Linked DNA regions of Homo sapiens. The protein of the gene in region 2 interacts with the protein of the main gene of each other region in a pairwise test. Each region holds a gene or a part of one and is shown on either strand. Other genes may lie near its edges.

Region 1 (6,239 bases), on a different chromosome or scaffold from region 2:
GTACAGACGGGGTCTCCTTATGTTGCCCAGGCTAGTCTCAAACTCCTGACCTCAGGTGATTCACCCGCCTCAGCCTCCCAGAGTGCTGGGATTACAGGTGTAAGCCACATTTAACATTTTCTAGAGAAAGGGTTCTACTATGTTGCCTAGGCTCATCTCAAACTCCTGGTCTCAAGCAATCCTCCCACCTTGGCCTCCCAAAGCATCGGTATTACAGGCCAATGAGGTCGAACTCCTGACCTCAAGCAATCCACCCACCTCGACATCCCAAAGTGCTGGGATTCCAGGCATGAGCCACCACGCCCGGCCCCGTGGCACATTTTCCTTCCGTGGCTTTTCTTCTTGAGGTCACGTGCTCCCAGGAGCACAGAGAGCTCTGGGGTCTTCCTGGACACTACCTCTGCTGTGATGAAGAAGGAGGGCCTTGGCAGGCCACCTGAGCTGCGTTTCCTGACCCTGTCCCCAGTGACAGCTGCGGCCACGATCCAAAAGAGAACATGAAACAGTGACCGTAAAAGTAAAGGCAACACTCTTTTTTTTTTTTTTCTTTTTTTACTTATTTAAAAAGGCCTTGGTGGCAGGAATATAGTGTAAAAATCATTGGAAAAACTAAAAGGCATCGATACATATCCGAATATACATTTTGTACATAAATTACATTTCCTTTAGTCTTTCTGAGTGAGGTCCTGATTCAGTACTGAGGTCTAGTAATTAAGAGGTCCCGGGAGCTGCACGTTCAGGCCGGCATAGTCCACCATGTACATTGGCCATTGCTAGAGAGAGGGACAAAGGGACTGGATTAGGACTCCAGGTGATGCGGAACAAACCCAAAATGCTTAGTTCTGCTTTTGGAAGAGCTTTCTCAGAGGCTATTTATTTATATTTTTTATTTTTTTGAGATGGAGTTTCACTCTTCTGCCCAGGCTGGAGTGCAGTGATGCAATCTCGGCTCACTGCAACCTTGGCCCCGCGGGTTCAAGCGAGTCTCCTGCCTCAGCCTCCCGAGTAGCTGGGATTATAGGCGCCCGCCACCATGCCCGGCTAATTTTTCTATTTTTAGTAGAGACGGGGTTTTGCCATGTTGGCCAGGCTGGTCTTGAACTCCTGAGCCTCAAGTGATCCGCCTGCCTCGGCCTCCCAAAGTGCTAGGATTACAGGCGTGAGCCACCACACCCAGCCTATTTATTTATTTTTGAGATGGAGTCTCGTTCTCTTGCCCAGGCTGGAGTGCAATGGGACGATCTTGGCTCACTGCAGCCTCAATCCCCTTGGGCTCAAATGATCCTCCTGCCCCAGCCTCCCAAGTAGCTGCGACCACAGGCACGTGCCACCATGCCTGGCTAATTTTTTTTTCTGAGACAGTGTTTCACTCTTGTTGCCCAGGCTGCAGTGCAATGGCGCGACCTCGGCTCATTGCAACCTCTGCCTCCCAGGTTCAAGCGATTCTCCTATCTCAGCCTTCCAAGTAGCTGGGATTACAGGCATGAGCCACTATGCCCCACTTTGCCCGGCTAATTTTGTATTTTTAGTAGAGATGGGGTTTCCCCGTGTTGGTCAGCCTGGTCTCAAACTCCTGACCTCAGGTGATCCACCCGACTTGACCTGCCAAAGTGCTGGGATTACAGGCGTGAGCCACTGCACCCGCCAGCCATGTCTTTTCATGTCTCCAGCTCTGGTGCGGCTGAAGGGTGTGGGCAGGTGGACCTCAGCCGGCCCATCTGCCCAGCGAGGATGTGAATTCCTGCCTGAGTGCCTGTGAGTACCCCACGAGAAGGATGGGCTACCTCTTGGGTGAGACAGGTGGATGCATCTATAACCCCCGAGGCCGGAAGGTCCCCACTCAAAGCCCAGTGCCTCCCCGTCCCCTGGGCCCACATCCCAGAGTAGACGGCCCTGCCAGACAGAGGGGTGAGGGCCACAGAGATGAGTGCCGGAGTCCAAATCGGTGCAACTTTACCACGAGTGAGATCTGGTTGGCCGATGCCACTGAATCCGGGTTAGAGGACGAGGAAGAGGAAGACGAGGAGGAAGAGGAGACGGAATTTCCTTCCGAGACCCGCTTTCTCTTGCGCTTGGGAATGCTGCTGTCTTTGGCTGGAAGGAGGGGAAAAGGCTGTTGACACTGGAAGCTGAGGCTTTTCTGTCTCAGCCTCCTGAGCTCCCTGGAAAAGTGCTCTGTCTTAAGGTTTCGAGTCCCCCTTTCAGGATTTCAGGCTCCTGATCCCCTGGGGGTCAGGGCCCACCTGTCCAGAGCCCACATGTCCAGCCTCCTTCCCAAAGCAAGCCCGAGGGCCCACTCTCCCCGGCCTCCTGCTCTTGCTGGCCTGCCTGCCTTTGCTAACACCGTATCCTCATCCCCATGTGTCCCTCCTCCTCCCCAGCAAGCTCACCCCTTAGGCCCTAGGTCCTCTCTCTTTCTGGTTTTTTGAGATGGAGTCTCGCTCTGTCACCCAGCCTGGAGTCCAGTGGCGCGATCTTGGCTCACTGCAACCTTTGCCTTCTGGGTTCAAGCGATTCTAGTGCCTGAGCCTCCCAAGTAGCTGGGGTTATAGGTGTCTGCCACCACGTCCAGCTAATTTTTTTGTATTTTGAGTAGAGATGGGGTTTCACCGTGTTGGGCAGGCAGCTCTTGAACTCCTGACCTCAAGTGATCCATCCACCTCGGCCTCCCAAAGTGCTGGGATTATAGGCATGAGCCATCGAACCTGGCCTATATTGTTTTTTAGGGTCTCACTCTGTTGCCCAGGCTGGAGTGCCATGGTGCAATCGTAGCTCACTGCAGCTTCCAAGTCCTGGGCTCAAGCAATCCTCCCACCTCAGGTTCCCGAGTAGCTGGGACTATACGTGCGCGCCACCATGCCTGGCTAACTTTTTGTATTTCTGCATCATTATGTTGCCCAGGCTGGTCTCCAATTCCCAACCTCAAGCAATCCTCCTGCCTCAGCTTCCCTAAATGCTGAGATTACAGGCATGAGCCACCGTGCCTGGCTCATGGCAACAATATTAATCGCATTCTCAGTTTCTGAGTATTTTCTGGGTGCTGGGCACTGTGCTAAATGCTTTGCACATTGTCTGCTGGGATCCTCCCAGCAACCCTCCAAGATCCTATTCACATTTCACTCACGAGCACCCGAAGGGGCAGGGCTGTTAAAGGACTTTCTCCAAGGCCAAGTCTGCGTGGCTCCGGAGGCCACATTCTTTCCTGGGCTCTTTAAGGCTGTGAGGGGATGTGGGACCCCAGGAGAGGCTCTGGGAGTTCTGGGGAGGCTGGAACTGCAGGCTAGGTTGTCCAGGGAGGGTATAAAGAGGACCTGGGGCCAGGCGCAGTGGCTCACACTGGTAATCCCAGCACTTTGGGAGACCAAGGTGGGTGGATTGACTGAGGTCAGGAGTTCGAGACCAGCCTGGGCAACATGGTGAAGGTTGAAACCCTGTCTCTACCAAAATACAAAAAAATTGTATTGCTATGGTTATCACTAATGTATGGTGGTCCTGAGTGGAGAGTTCACAGGTCCAAGTAGACAGGCAGTGCCCCAGTGAAAGAAACTCTGGTTTAGAATCAGAAGTCCTAAGTTCAAATTTCACTGTGGCCACTTACTATTATCACTGTGTGAATCTGGGAAAACTGATGAACCTCTCTGAGTCAAATGGGGAAACCAGTGTGATGTGAGACTCAAAAAACACCGCATGCATAAAAGAACCCAGCACCTAGTTCAGCACGGAGGAGGGGTCAGCAGGTGTTCTGTGGTTGCTGGATTAACTTGAGGTGAAGATGTAAGACTTTGAGCAGCACGTCCTGATTGGATGGATTACTGCATGGAAACCTCGCCCAGCCCAATAAAGAAGGGCTTTTATTGTCTTTTTGAGACAAGGTCTCACTCTGTCACCCATGCTGGAGTGCAGTGGTGTGGTCTTGGCTCACTGCAACCTCCACCTCCCAAGCTCAAGTGATCCTCCTGCCTCAGCCTCCCTACAGGTGCACACCACCCTGCCTGGCTAATTTTTTGTAGAGACGGGGTCTCTGTATGTTGCCCAGTCTGGTCTTGAACTCTTGGGCTCAAAGAATTCTCCTGCTTCAGCCTCCCAAAGTGCTGGGATTACAGGCGTGAGCCACTGCACTCAGCCCACCGGAAGGGTCTTAATGACACAGAGTAAGGGCAGGCTGGGTCCATGGGGCAAATGTCTCTTCAACTGGTGGAGAAGTCAGAAACTGGGGGTCTGTGGTGAGGCATAGAGACCCTGCGAAAGAGAAGACCCTGGAGGCAGGAGGAGCCCAGGCTATGAGTCAGAGGGATTTTTGTGGGAGATTCCACATGAAAAAGAAGTCAGAGGCTGCCCCACCCTCTGTCTCAGACTGGTCCATGGGCTGTGGCCATCCTTGAATCACCATGAGAGATGGCCACATTGGAGGGAGTGGTGGATGTGGGTGACAGTATCCACCCTCTGGGCATCTGTCCCAAATCCTCCTGAGGCTTTCATGTGGCCTTCTGTGTCTCTGCCATGTTTTGTTTTGTTTTTTTTTGAGACAGAGCCTGGCTGTGTTCCCCAGGCTGAAGTACAGTAGTGTGATCTCAGCTCACTGCAACCGCCGCTTCCTGGGTTCAAGCAATTCTCCTGCCTCAGCCTCCTGAGCGGCTGGGATTACAGGCGCCCACCACCACCCCCGGCTAATTTTTTTTTTTTTGGATTTTAGTAGAGACAAGGTTTCACCATGTTGGCCAGGCTGGTCTTGAACTCCTGACCTCAGGTGATCCACCTGCCTCCCTGCCTCAGCCTCCCAAAGTGTTGGGATTACAGGCGTGAGCCACCGCGACTGGCCTCCTCTCTGCCTTTGACCTGAGAGTAAACCAAATCGCCTCCAGATCCGTGTGTTCAGTGCCAGACCTGACCCTTTTAACTGGCTCTTTTTTTTTTGGAAACAGGGTCTCACTCTGTCGCCCAGGCTGGAGCGCAGTGGCACAATCATAGCTCACTGCAGCCTCCACCTTCCGGCCTCAAGCACTCCTCCTGCCTCATCCTCTTGACTATCTGGGACAACAGGTACGCGCCACCACGCCTGGCTAATTTTTAATTTTTTTGCAGAGACGGAGGGAGGGTCTCACTTTATGGCCCAGGCTTGTGACTAGCTCTTGATGGAAGGAGGTGGCTTCTAGCTGGGCTGTGCCACCCCAGGCTGTGGAGTTCCAGGTGAACCTGGTCCTGACAGGAGTCAGGGCCTTGGGTCTCAGGTAAGGTTGTGGCGTGGACTTGCTGAATCCTATCACTGTCCCTGTTGAGCAGCCATACTGGGCCGTGTGGCCCACGGTGGTCTATGGTTCAGATGGGTGGTCCTGAGAGCAGGGTCTACACAGCATCTGACTCACTATGTGGCCTGGGCAAGTCCCTGGGCATCTCTGTGCCTCAGCTTCCCAGCTGTACAATGAGGTGGGGTAAGATTAGATCAGTATTTTTTCTTTCTTCTTCTTTTTTATTTCTTAGGAGACGGGGTCTCGGCCAGGCACAGTAGCTCACGCCTGTAATCCCAGCACTTTGGGATGCTGGGGTGGGAAGATCACTTGAGGTCAGGTGTTTGAGACCAGCCCGGCCAACATGGTGAAACCTCACTTCTACTAAAAATACAAAAAATTAGCTGGGTGTGGTGGTGCATGCCTGAAGTCCCAGCTACTCGGGAGGCTAAGGCATGAGAATTGCTTGAACTCAGGAGGCGGAGGTTGCAGTGAGCCAAGATCGCAAGATTGACTCCAGCCTGAGTGACAGAGTGAGACTCTGTCTTGAAAGAAAAAAAAAAAAAAAAAAGGCCGGTAGCAGTGGCTTACGCCTGTAATCCCAGCACTTTGGGGGGCCGAGGCAGGTAGATCATGAGGTCAGGAGTTCGAGACCAGCCTGGCCAATATGGAGAAACCCCGTCTCTACTAAAAATACAAAAAAATAGCTGGGCGTGGTGGCAGGCGCCTGTAATCCCAGCTACTTGGGAAACTGAGGCAGGAGAATCACTTGAACCCGGGAGTCGGAGGTTGCAGTGAGCCGAGATCACACCACTGCACTCCAGCCTGGGCGACAGAGTGAGACGCTGTCTCGGAAAAAAAAAAAAGAGATGGGGTCTCATTCTGTCATCCAGGCAGGATGGCATAATCATAGCTCACTGCAGCCTTAAACTCTTGGGCTCAAGTGATCCTCCAGCCTCAGCCTCCTGGGACTACAAGTGCCTACTACCATGCCTGGCTAATTTTTAGAAAAAC
Region 2 (3,693 bases):
CTCTGCCATCCCTCAGACAGCAAGACCAACGCCTCCTTCTTCCTCGGCCTTCTCAACAGTGAAGACCTTTATGATGATCCATTTCCACCTAGTGAACAGTAAATATATTTTCTCTTCCTTATGATTTTCTTAATAACACTTTTTCTGTAGCTTACTTTATTGTAAGAGTATAGAATATAACACATAAAATATACAAAATATGTGTTAATTGACCATGCTATCAGTAAGGCTTGCGATCAACAGGCTGTTAATGGTCAAATTTTTGGGAAGTCAACAGTTACACATGAATCTTCAACTGTGAGGGGGGCTGGTGCCACTAACCCCTGGGTTGCTCAAGGGTCAGCTGTACCGTGGAAGGAGAAATGAAGGAAGTCCTTCTATGTGATTCTATCCCACACAAGCAAAAAAGGAAAAGGTTGTTAAATCTAGAAAATATAGAAAAATAGTCATCGTATGCTACAGGAGAGATTGGAAAACTGTGGGTCAAAGTAGCAAGGCATTAAATAAAAAGTCAAATTCAGGGTATCTTAAAACAACCAGTTTCTTTAATTAGAAAGCAACAAACATGCAAATGGCAAGTGTAGAAATTTATTTGAACCAACATTTTCACTATGATGAAAATTATTCTTCAACATTGATCCAAGCTCCCACATTTGAAGGTTAGGGAAAATATTGCACTTTGCATTTTCTAGCACTCCTCATACACGGCAAAAAGTTTTAAAAACATTCTGCTAGTTTTGTTTTATACAATCTCCCAAATTCATGCACACAATCATTCCAAACCAATGTTAGGTTATCCCAAAAAAAGGGAAAAACTCCAAAAACCATAACCTTAAAATTGCACTAAAGCTCTGTAAAGAAAAAAATATAATAAATGTCTTATACAAATTTCAGAACATTTAAGTGCTTGCCAAAAAGAGTTTATTATTCCTCATCCTCATTTTCATTCTCTTGACCAGAGCCTTCTGATCTGTCACCCTCCAACCGGTCTGGAAACACAGATAAGAGAATCGCAAAGAGAAATACTTTTAGTAATTACAATTATTAATATTTTTCAATGCCTTTTATTTAAAACGCATTAAAAATCAGTTCACCACTATGTGTGGATGTCTTTAGAGGCAAATAAAAGAGTAAAGAAAACACAGTATTATTAGCTTTGATTATGCATGTTATTCTAAAACATGTAAAAATGAAAAAAGAAACCCACTCCTAAAATCTTGATATATTATGTTCTACTGCAGTGGTTGTCAAACAGTGTTCTTTGGAGTCTAGGTTTCTAAGGAGGTACATCAGGTGCTGCAAAGGGGAGTGAGGAGGCAGCTGTGTGAGAGAAAATATGTGGACGATTGTTGAGGATTTGTGTAATTCTGTTTGTAAAAAGATTTTTTTAAATTAAATACTATGTTCCAGGCATTGTGATAAAACCTGAGAATACAATGGTGACCAAAACAGATGTAAATTTCTGGTCTCAAGGAGCTTATTTAGGTTAAATACTCAAGTGAATATAAACTTACAAACTGGTGAGTACAGTATGCTCGTTCAAGTTTTCAGGAATTACACTTGCTATTCCTCTGCTTGGGATACTTTTGCCCAATTCTTTAGCTATAAAGGTTTACTCATCTCAATACAACTATTATACCCTTGGTGAAACTTTTCCTGGACATTTCCAAACAGGCTATCTGCAGAATTATGAACTCCCTCCTCCACATTCTAGAATATCTTATATGAACTTCATAATGATGATCCTAATTACAGTAATAGTCGTTTGCATGTCTTCCTGCAGACCAGATTGAGAGTTCCTGGAGGGCAGGAGTTACTTCTTTTTATCTTTATATCCTCAGAGCCTAGTATAGGATGTTCAATGAAGGTTTACTGAATAAATGAATATAAGTTTTATGAAGGTAAGATACATTACATAAGGGTATTGTGAAGAAGGCAACAGCATAAAATCACTACCATCACTGAGATGGAACTAGGATGTTTCTGCCCCAGAAACATTTCCACATAGTAACATGGAAAATATTAAGGTTAAGCATAAGGAAAACAGTTCAGTCCCACTGTCAACAGCAAGAGAAGACTGAATCCTGAGATTTTATTTATTATCTACACAGGATTAAATGCTCCCACTGGATCCTAGGTCAACAGCACCAAGAACAGTACACTGAAGGGACTATATGTCCCTTTTAATTGTTTAATTGTCCAAGTGAATTAGATTAAATCTCCTCTATGCCAACTCTAATCCAATGTCAAACCAATGACATAATGTATGTGTAACCTTTATAACCTTAATTATACAAATAGGTATTGAATACAAATAAGTATTCAATTCCTTACTGATCTATAAAGGTCTATTCAAATCTTATTTTGTTCATTTATTTTATAAATATGTATTCAATACATATTTATAAAATAAATGAACAAAATAAGATTTGAATAGACCTTTATAGATCAGTAAGGAATTTAAACACAGTAGAAGAATTTCTGACCAATAAAAGGCTACCTAAGGGATATTAGTATAAAAAAAATTACATTGTTTTTATTGTGTGATACTTTCAAGAGAGAACAAAACATGAAGTTGCTATTCTACTTAAGTAGGGCTCAGGAATGGGAATCCTGAGTATGACTGAATATATTCAAGAAACCTATCCTGTCATGTTAGAGCATGATGAAGCAGTAACGGCCTATCTCAAAGTTGGCAGGCTTCTTACTCAAATTTCTTTTGGTTGTCACATTATAAAGAAGATGGGATAATAGAGAGTTAAGAAAAAAATGTCACAGCCTTTAAATCAGGGAGTTTGCAGTAGAGGTTAGACTTTTACACTCAGAGGCACACAATAAAGAGACAAATGAGGGCCAAGAGTCTTACGATAGGTCACAGAATAAGTGACAGTGGCTTCTGAAATGAGGAAAGCAGAATAGTTGTTCTCTCCTCAAATTCAATTCATTTAACTGATGCATAGTCACCTCTTCCAGAATGTAAGCCCAACTTCTCAGAATTAATTAAATCTTCTGTTCATGAAATGCTACTGAAGTAGTAAGGCTGCAAAGCAGTTAACACTTATACAAATCTCTGGTTGGCAATTATAGACAAGGAGGTCTGAAGAACAGTGTGTTCTCTTAAATAAAAACTGGAAATAAGAATCACTTCTATGTATACTGTTTTTCTTTTTCTTCTTTTTTTTTTGAGACCGAGTCTCGCTCTATCGCCCAGGCTGGAGTGCAGTGGCGCGATCTTGGCTCACTGCAACCTCCGCCTCCCGGGTTCAAGCGATTCTCCTGTCTCGCCCTCCCGAGTAGCTGGGACTACAGGAGCGTGCCACCACACCCGGCTGATTTTTTTGTTTTTAGTAGAGATGGGGTTTCACCATGTTAGCCAGGATGTCTATGTATACTGTTTTTCAGAAGTAGCAATGTCAAATTGCTTTTGTAAATAAGGTTTACATTTGTAGAAAGGTTCCTTTTATTCTGTTAGAATATTTCTTCAGGAAACTGGGGAAGATAATGATATGAAGAGACACTGAGTTTGCTGCAGAGGGAGGGAAGGTAGATAAGAAAAAAATTTCCCAATGGAAGCCTGTGTTTCACAAAAAACACTGTTGTTTTATTTTCCAGGCTACCCTTTACAAAGAATTTATTTACTTTCTTTAAAAGAAATAATACAAATTCATTGTTAGCTAGAGATTTGATACTAGA

Evidence for each region.
Region 1: the proteins of DCAF6 (region 2) and GTF2IRD1 interact in a two-hybrid assay, tested with the Homo sapiens proteins (one study listed by BioGRID and IntAct).

The regions. Positions count from the first base shown.
Region 1 is NC_000007.14:74,596,899-74,603,137, reverse strand, and holds the end of GTF2IRD1 (general transcription factor II-I repeat domain-containing protein 1), read right to left. Parts: intron 2,095-6,239; coding exon 1,958-2,094; coding exon of another isoform or gene 1,841-1,957; exon of another isoform or gene 844-1,840; intron 774-843; coding exon 705-773; 3' UTR 533-704; downstream 1-532. UniProt on the Homo sapiens protein: May be a transcription regulator involved in cell-cycle progression and skeletal muscle differentiation. May repress GTF2I transcriptional functions, by preventing its nuclear residency, or by inhibiting its transcriptional activation.
Region 2 is NC_000001.11:168,072,667-168,076,359, reverse strand, and holds the end of DCAF6 (DDB1- and CUL4-associated factor 6), read right to left. Parts: intron 990-3,693; coding exon 925-989; 3' UTR 524-924; downstream 1-523. UniProt on the Homo sapiens protein: Ligand-dependent coactivator of nuclear receptors. Enhance transcriptional activity of the nuclear receptors NR3C1 and AR. May function as a substrate receptor for CUL4-DDB1 E3 ubiquitin-protein ligase complex.